Regions from separate parts of the Homo sapiens genome. Here all the other regions are linked to region 3. The links come from fine-mapping of genetic effects on gene expression. A gene starts in region 3. Each other region holds a variant in brackets. All regions are shown on one strand. Distances are from middle to middle.

Region 1 (2,673 bases), 140 kb before region 3:
TTGGGCTTGGTGGCACACGTTTGTAATCCCAGTTACTCAGGAGGTTGAGGTGGGAGGATCGCTTGAGCTCAGGAGGTCAAGGCTGCAGTGAGCCATGGTTGCTTCACTGCATTCTAGCCTGGGCAACAGAGTGAGACCCCGTCTCAAAAAAAAAAAAATGTGGTAGATGCCACAAGAGATGTTTTTACACTTTATGAAGAAGAGCATTTTTTTTTAAACTGTAATAGTTTTGTATTTATTTTCACTTATATTAGAAAAGTTATAACCAATACATAAGGCTACTTGTTATTTCATGAATGTGATTACACAAGATAAGTCTAGAGTTATTTTTAATGAGCTGGTTTAAAGAAAAAATGTTAAGCCAATAAATAATAGTACAGGCAATGTACAGAATATGAAAAATTATGACAGTGGTATGTGAGTATTTGAAATTTAGGAAACAAGTTAAAAGTAAAATGATGATAGCTCAGGAGACAGGACAAGACTATGGACATTAGGAGTAATTGACATAGAAATGGCACTCAAGCCCAACACAGCTGACCTCTGCAAGGAGGGCAGGGCTAGAGAAAAGAGCTAGGGATGAAATACAGGCCAGGCACAGTGGCTCATGCCTGTAGTCCCAGCACTTTGGGAAGCCAAGGTTAGAAGATCGCTTGAGGCCAGGAGTTTGAGACAAGCCTGGGCAACAAAGCTAGACTTCATCTCTACAAAAAAAATTAATAAAAATTAGCTGGATGTAGTGGTGAGCACCTGTAGCTGGAGCTACTCAGGAGGCTGAGATGGGTGGATCGCTTCAGCCCAGGAATTGGAAGCTGCAGTGAGCTATGATCCCTTCACTGCATTCCAGCCTGGGCAACAGAGTGAGACCCCAACTTGAAAAAAACAAAACAAAACAAAAAACAAAACCCAAGATATAAACAGGCAGTAGCTCTTTTTAACTAGCCAGAAAATTAGACCGGGTGAGGTGGCTCATGCCTGTAATCCCAGCACTTTGGGAGGCCGAGGCGGGCAGATCACTTGATATCAGAAGTTCGAGACCAGCCTGGCCAATATGGTGAAACCCTGTCTCTACTAAAAATACAAAATTAGCTGGGTGTGGTGGCGGGCACCTGTAATCCCAGCTACTCAGAAGGCTAAGGCAGGAGAATTGCTTGAACCCGGGAGGCAGAGGCTGCAGTGAGCCGAGATCGCACCACTGCACTCCAGCCTGGGTGACAGAGCAAGACTCTGTCT[C/CAAAAAAA]AAAAAAAAAAAAAAAAAGTTAATTAATGGAAGGGGCTGGGTGCAGTGGCTCACGCTTGTAATCCTAGCACTTTGGGAGGCCGAGGTGGGTGGATTGCCTGAACTTGGGAGTTCGAGACCAGCCTGGACAACATGGCAAAATCCTCTCTAGTGAAAATGAAAAAAATTAGCCGGGCATGGTAGTGTGTGCCTGTAGGTCCCAGCTATTGAGGAGGCTGAAGCAGGAGAATCACTTGCATCTGGGAGACGGAGGTTACAGTGAGCCAAGACCATGTAGCTGCATTCCAGCCTGGGCAACAGAGCAAAACTCTGTCTCCAAAAAAATTAAAAAAAAAAAGGAAAGGAAAATTAATGGAAGGAAATATCCCATTCATAAGAGCAATAAAAACCTTAAAATAAATAGGAGTAACATTAACAAGAAATTATAGAACCTATATTGGATCAGTTGATAACACTAAAGTATTTTGAGTCACTTAAAAAGGGAAGACCTTGGCTGGCCGTGGTGGCTCACACCAGTAATCCCACCACTTTGGGAGGCTGAGGCGCATGGATCACCTGAGGTCAGGAGTTCGAGAGCAGCCTGGCCAACATGGTGAAACTCTGTCTCCACTAAAAATACAAAAATTAGCCAGGCATAGTGGTGAGTACCTGTAGTCCAAGCTACTCTGGAGTCTGAGGCAGGCAAATCACTTGAACCCAGGAGGTGGAGGTTGCAGTGAGCAGAGATTGTGCTACTGCACTCCAGCCTGGGGGCCAGAGCGAGACTCCATCTCAAAAAAATAAAAGTAAAAATAAATACAAAAATACAAAAGGAAAACCTTCAGGACAAACAGCTATCGTGGAGCGAGGGAGAAGGAAGGCTTGTGGGGTCAAGCACAGTGGCTCACACCTGTAATCCCAGCACTTTGGGAGGCCCAGGCAGGAGGATGACTTGAGCCCAGGAGTTCCAGATCAGCCTGGGCAACATAGCAAGACCTTGTCTCTACAAAAAGTTAAAAGAAAAAAAAAAGGCTAGGCATAGTGGCATGTGCCTGTAGTCCCAGCTACTCAGGAGGCTGAGGTGTAAGGATCACTTAAGCCCAAGGAAATCAACACTGCAGAGAGCTATGATTGCACCACTGCCCTCCAGCTTGGGCAACAGAGCAAGAACCTGTCTTAAAAAAAAAAAAAAAAAGGGCCGGGCGTGGTGGCTCACACTTGTAATCCCAGCACTTTGGGAGGCTGAGGCGGGCAGATCACAAGGTCAGGAGATCAAGACCATCCCGGCTAACACAGTGAAACCCCATCTCTACTAAACAAAATACAAAAAATTAGCCGGACGTGGTGGCGGGCACCTGTAGTCCCAGCTACTCGGGAGGCTGAGGCAGGAGAATCTCTTGAACCCGGGAGGCGAGCTTGCAGTGAGCTGAGATCACGCCACTGCACTCCAGCCTGGGCGAC
Region 2 (2,673 bases), 21 kb before region 3:
CCTCCCAAGCTCAAGCAATTCTCCCACCTCAGCACCCTAGAGTAGGTGGGACTACAGGTGCACGCCACCACACCTGGCTAATTTTTTTTTTTTTTTTTTTTTGAGACAGAGTCTCGCTCTGTTGCCCAGGCTGGAGTGCAGTGGTGCGATCTTGGCTCACTGCAAGCTCCGCCCCTCGGGTTCACGCCATTCTCCTGCCTTAGCCTCCCGAGTAGCTGGGATTACAGGCGCCCGCCACCACGCCCACCTAATTTTTTGTATTTTTAGTAGAGACGGGGTTTCACCGTGTTAGCCAGGATGGTCTCGATCTCCCGACCTCGTGATCCACCTGCCTCGGCCTCCCAAAGTGCTGGGATTACAGGCGTGAGCCAGCGCACCCAGCAATTTTTTTACTTTTTGTAGAGATAAGATTTCACCATATTGCCCAGGCTGCTCCGGAACGCCTATGCTCAAGCAATCTGCCTGCCTTGGCTTCCCAAAGTACTGGGATTACAGGCGTGAGCCACTGTGCCAACCTTGAAATTCCTAATAATTTTTGTTACCCTGAGACAGAGTCTTGCTCTGTCACCCAGGCTGGAGTGCAGTGGCATGATCTCGGCTCACTGCAACCTCTGCCTCCCGGGTTCAAGCATGAATTTATGTTTTGAAAGTGTGTCCCCATATCCAAAGGAGTGCAACATTAAATATCAAATAAAAGAATACCATGACAGGTTGAGAAATTGTAGAAAACAAAAACAAAAAAAAGCTTTGTTCCTTTTTTTTTTTTTTTTTTGAGACAAGGTCTCATTCTGTCACCCAGACTGGAGTGTAGTGGCTCGATCATAACTCACTGCAGCCTGAAATTCCTGGGCTCAAATTATCCCTGCCTTGCCTCAGCCTCCTGAGTATCTGGGAGTACAGTACACACCACTATGCCCAACTAAAGTTTTTTAGTTTTTGTAGAGACAGGTTCTCCCCTGTGTTGTCCAGGCTGGTCTTGAACTCCTGGCTTTACATGACCTTCCCGCCTCATCCTCCCAAAGCACTGGGGTTACAGACATGAGCCACCGTGCCCAGCTTGTTTCTGCTTTTGAACAAGGGGTCCTGCATTTTCATTTTGCAGCAGGTCTTGCAAATTATGTAACCATTCCTCATCCCAGGACAAGATACTGGCCAGGTGTGGTGGCTCATGCCTGTAATCCCAGCACTTTGGGAGGTTGAGGTAGGCAGATTGCCCGAGCTCAGGAGTTCAAGACCACCCTGGGCAACATGGTGAAACCCCCGTCTCTACTAAAATACGAAAACATTTAGCCGGGCGTGGTGGTGCACACCTGTAGTCCCAGCTACTCAGGAGGCTGAGGCAGGAGAATCGCTTGAGCCCGGGAGGTGGAGGTTGCAGTGGGCCGAGATTGTGTCACTGCACTCCAGCTTGGGTTACAGAGTGAGACTCCGTCTCAAAAATAAAAAAAGATACCGAAGGCCCCTTCTCCAAAGACCA[C/T]CTGCTTTATGGTGGTCTTTGGAGAAGGGGCCTTCAGTATTTCCTTAGGCATTTTCCTTGAGTGATAGAAACAGCTCGGTTTTCCCCGTGGAGACAGCATTCCTGTGTGCACCCTCTCTGGTCCCTTCTGCCCAATTCCCTAGGTCTCTAGGAAGGGATGATGGGATGGGATGGGCATGAGGGTGAGGAAGAAGCATGAAGGCGCTTATCAATAACAGATGTCAACAGGTGGCTTATTGATATCAGGTGGTTTATTGATATTGAAACTCCACGCCCCTTTCACCACAGACCACCTGTTGGCCATAAGGCTATGGTGCCAGCGATCTCTCCCACTAACAGAGCTGGCCAGGTCCCAGGGCCTAGCAAACCTCCCAGAGTGGTCTCTAGGTATGGAGGACCCCAGAAAGGGGAAGGGGCTGTGATTGAAGGGATGCTACTCTCTGATTAACCGACAGTATGACCGTCACATTAGGGTCAGCTACACTGCAGGGCTGGGGTGTGTGGATATCTGTGCTGGGGTCTGGGCTCCGTGGAGAGATGTGTAGGGGTAATGAGAAATTGATCAGCAATGAGAGGTGGACTCTGAGCCACCTCCCTGACCCTGAATCATTCAAGCGAGGAGCAGAGGAGCTCTTGACTGGGGGACGGGGATGTGAGGATCCCCAGGGCCTCAGAAGTTGTTATCAATGTTCCAGACATCCCCGCTAAGCGCATTGGCTGCCCCTTGCAGCGTCCAGGTGAGCAGGGCTAGCTGACGCCGGAAACGGCTCTCCTGGAAGCCAGTGGAGGAGGTGGCCCCGGGGGTCCCGGAGCTGTTGGAGCGCAGCAGCCGCAGGTGGTCCAGCAGGGCGCCCAGCGTGTGGTCTCCACGGCCCATGAAGATGTGGCGGAACGGGGAGTCGGCTGGCGACACGTACTGGGAAAGGAAGTAGAACTCCACCTGCGCAGAGAGGGGGATCAGGTCAGGGTTGGGGGCTCTGGCTCGGGAGCAAAGGCCCGAGTCACCCTTCCCGCCAGCCAGTCTTTTTGTTTTTTTGTTTGTTTGTTTTCTTTTTGTGTTTGTTTTTTGTTTGTTCGTTTGTTTTGAGACGGAGTCTCGCTCTGTCTCCCAGGCTGGAGTGCAGTGGCACGATCTCGGCTCACTGCAACCTCCGCCTTCAGCGTTCAAGCGATTCTCCTGCCTCAGCCTCCAGAGT
Region 3 (2,673 bases):
GGGGTTTCACCGTGTTAGCCAAGATGGTCTCGATATCCTGACCTAGTGATCTGCCCGCCTCCGCCTCCCAAAGTGCTGGGATTACAGGCCTGAGCCACCGCACCCTGCCGTTATTTTGTTTTTGAAACAGGGTCTCGCTCTGTCTCCCAGGCTGGAGTGCAGTGGCATAATCTCGGCTCACTGCAACCTCCGCCTCCCCGGCTCAGGCAATCCTCCCCCGTCAAGCTCCCAAGTAACTGGGACTACAGGCACTCGCCATCATCCCCAGCTAATTTTTGTGTTTTCTTTGGTAGAGACGGGGTTTCATCGTATTGCCCAGGCTTGCTTGCTTGGTTTTCTGATTCCCTAGAATGCGGCTTCTCAGAACCCCTCAGCGCTCCCTGCTCCAAATCTAGGCGCCTGGGTGAGGCATTCAAGGCTTTTCTGGGTCTGTCCAGTCTGATACTGGATGCTGCACCCCTCTGATCTCAGACAGTCAGCTCCCTCACCTCCCAAATATGCCACCCTCAGAGCCTCAGTCCCCTGGAACCTCAGCTCCGAATGCCTGCCATCCTTCCCAGGACCGCTGAACAGGGGGGCCAGGAAGGCAGATGGGAGGACTCAGGAGGGGGACCCAGACACCAGAGGCCTGGGCCAGGAGGCAGGGAGGCCCAGTCTGAGCGGATGAGGGGAGGGACACTCGAGAACAGGATGGGGCAGGGCCATCCCTACCTGATGGTGTCCTCCAGGCGCCCCTCCCCCAGGAACTGCAGGAACATGGCCTGGAGGTCGCTCCAGTAGAGTCTGCCCTGGTGGAAATCCAGGTCAGGCTCATAGTTGACATCCTCACTGACCACCAACACAGAGTCTCCGCACGCCTGGCAGGACCCTCGGAAGGCGACGTAGCCCAGTAGGAAGGCTGGCGGGTGGCAAGATGGGGATTCTCTTTATGCCCACCTCTGGACCCCAGAAATCTCCCCCAGCCCAAGCCCTTCACTTCTGGGGAGGGGGACGGCTCTCACCCCCAGTGAAGATCAGCAGGGCCGTCAGGACCAGGTAGGGGGCAGCCCTCCGTCCTGCTGCCGCCCAGGGAATGAGGTTTGGCTGCCTGGGTCTAGAGCCCAGGGGCTCAGGGCCCCTCAGCTCCATGGGGCAGAAGTGGGCCAATGTCTCCGCCCCCTCCTCCCCGTCTTCCTCTTCCTCCTCCAGGTGCCCTTTCCGGGGGCCTTCCACACGCTGGTAGACGGTCTGAGAGGATCTTGGGGACAGTTGTTGCTGTGCAGGCGAGGTGGGCATGAGATTGGGGCAAGAGGCCTGGGGGGTGGGGAGGCATCTGGCAATAATGAGGTCAGTGACTTGGGGGTGTCAAATGAGCATGGTGGTGGGGGCGTGGGGGAGGGGCAGGGGTGGGAAGAAGCGAGGTCAGGACACGGTCCAGGAGGGGCCAGCCTCAGGGGCTTGGGAGGGGGCTGAGGGACTTAGAGAGAAGGCCTAAGGGGTCTTCCCAATCCCACTAGTCTTACCGCTCTCTGGAATAGACCCCAAAGCCGCTCCATGCTTGTGTCCCCTCCTGAAGCCTGCAGGCTGTCCCCCAGCGATAAACCGATAAACCGTTTGTGGGAGCCCTAGGAGGGCCCCTTATCAGTCCTGGCAGGCAGCCTGAACCAAGGCTGCTCCTCACCACCCCCAAGGGTGGGGGCACAGTCCTGGCCTCAGTCCAGCCTTCCAGACGTGGCCCCCGGGTCCAGGCCAGAGCACAAGGGGCTGTGCTCTCCCCTGCCAATCTCTCCACAGCCCCACGCCTGCCTCCTCCCTGCAAAACAATCAATTTTTTGACCTTGGGGCGGACTTTGGCCTCCTAGTTCCCATCAGGGGTGGGGGAAGGGGGCCGATAGTGGGGGAGGGCAGAGACATGGGTGCCCCCTCCCCTCTCCTGCTTTTACCCCTCCCTGGATCCTGGGGACCCCTTCCTAAGCCCCGCCATGCCCAGGTGGAAGATTCACCCCTAAGACATCTGCCCCTTCCTCATCTGGCCTTCAGAGTCCCCCAGTGCCCCGGTCCTGTGACATATCAGCTGTCCTCCCTGTCCTGACACTTGCCCCAGTGGCATTCTAAGCTGGAGGCACCACAGTGGTGTGACTTGGGGGTCTGGTCTGGTGGTGTGCATGTGTGTCTCTTTTGAAAGGTCGTTCTCAGACTCCTGCTGGCTGCTGGAGAAGGAGGGGCACAGGTGGGAGCACATGGTCAGATGAGACCAGCGAGAGCTCCCAGATAGGGGTCCTGGGGTCAGGGATATGTGGGTCAGTGGGGAGGAGTGATCAGAGTCCCCGCCAAGGTGTGGGCAGAGCTGGGTGACCCTGGACAAGTCATGGTCCTCCCTGGGCACCGGCCCGTTTGGTCACCGAAGGACTTGGATCACATGGGTTTCTACCTCTTTGGGTTCTGAGGCTGATGAAAGGCCAGTTAGCCTCACCCCAGAAACATGTCACAGGCATAAACTGCTAAACAGGCAGGGGGCGCAGGTCCCCAAACCCTTCCGAGGGCCCCAAGACAAGTAGCTCTGAAGAGGAGGGCTCAGGGTCCCACCAAGTTTCCCTTTCGGGTTTCCCCTGGGAAACATCAGCTCCTACTCAGGTCCAGAGAAGTTCCGAGCTGCTGGGATGCACCAGCGCCCTAGTCCCCGCCCCATGTCTG

Direction of the effects. Alleles are on the strand shown, and positions count from the first base shown. SD is a standard deviation of normalised expression in the study named. Not every link is listed here.
In carriers of allele CAAAAAAA in region 1, the expression in prefrontal cortex of the gene that starts at base 1,578 in region 3 tends to be lower than with C alone (large effect, 1.1 SD a copy in CommonMind).

What was found. PIP is the estimated chance that this variant, and not a neighbour inherited with it, causes the effect. A credible set is the group of variants that fine-mapping cannot tell apart.
Region 1: its variant is the best candidate, but not a certain one, in a credible set for the expression of TFR2 in prefrontal cortex (CommonMind, PIP 0.63).
Region 2: its variant is the best candidate, but not a certain one, in a credible set for the expression of TFR2 in whole blood (INTERVAL, PIP 0.70).

What each region holds. Positions count from the first base shown.
Region 1 is chr7:100,496,637-100,499,309 of GRCh38, forward strand. No RefSeq gene overlaps it. Among named protein-coding and RNA genes, the nearest start is that of NYAP1, 14 kb to the left of the region's middle. The variant C/CAAAAAAA (reference allele first, on the strand shown) is at 1,234.
Region 2 is chr7:100,618,710-100,621,382 of GRCh38, forward strand. TFR2 (transferrin receptor 2) reads right to left here. Exons shown (of 18, transcript NM_003227.4): 18 at 1,711-2,417. The coding sequence ends at 2,148. Among named protein-coding and RNA genes, the nearest start is that of MOSPD3, 7.5 kb to the left of the region's middle. The variant C/T (reference allele first, on the strand shown) is at 1,478.
Region 3 is chr7:100,639,975-100,642,647 of GRCh38, forward strand. TFR2 (transferrin receptor 2) reads right to left here and starts at 1,578. Exons shown (of 18, transcript NM_003227.4): 1 at 1,503-1,578; 2 at 1,002-1,254; 3 at 712-898. The coding sequence starts at 1,535.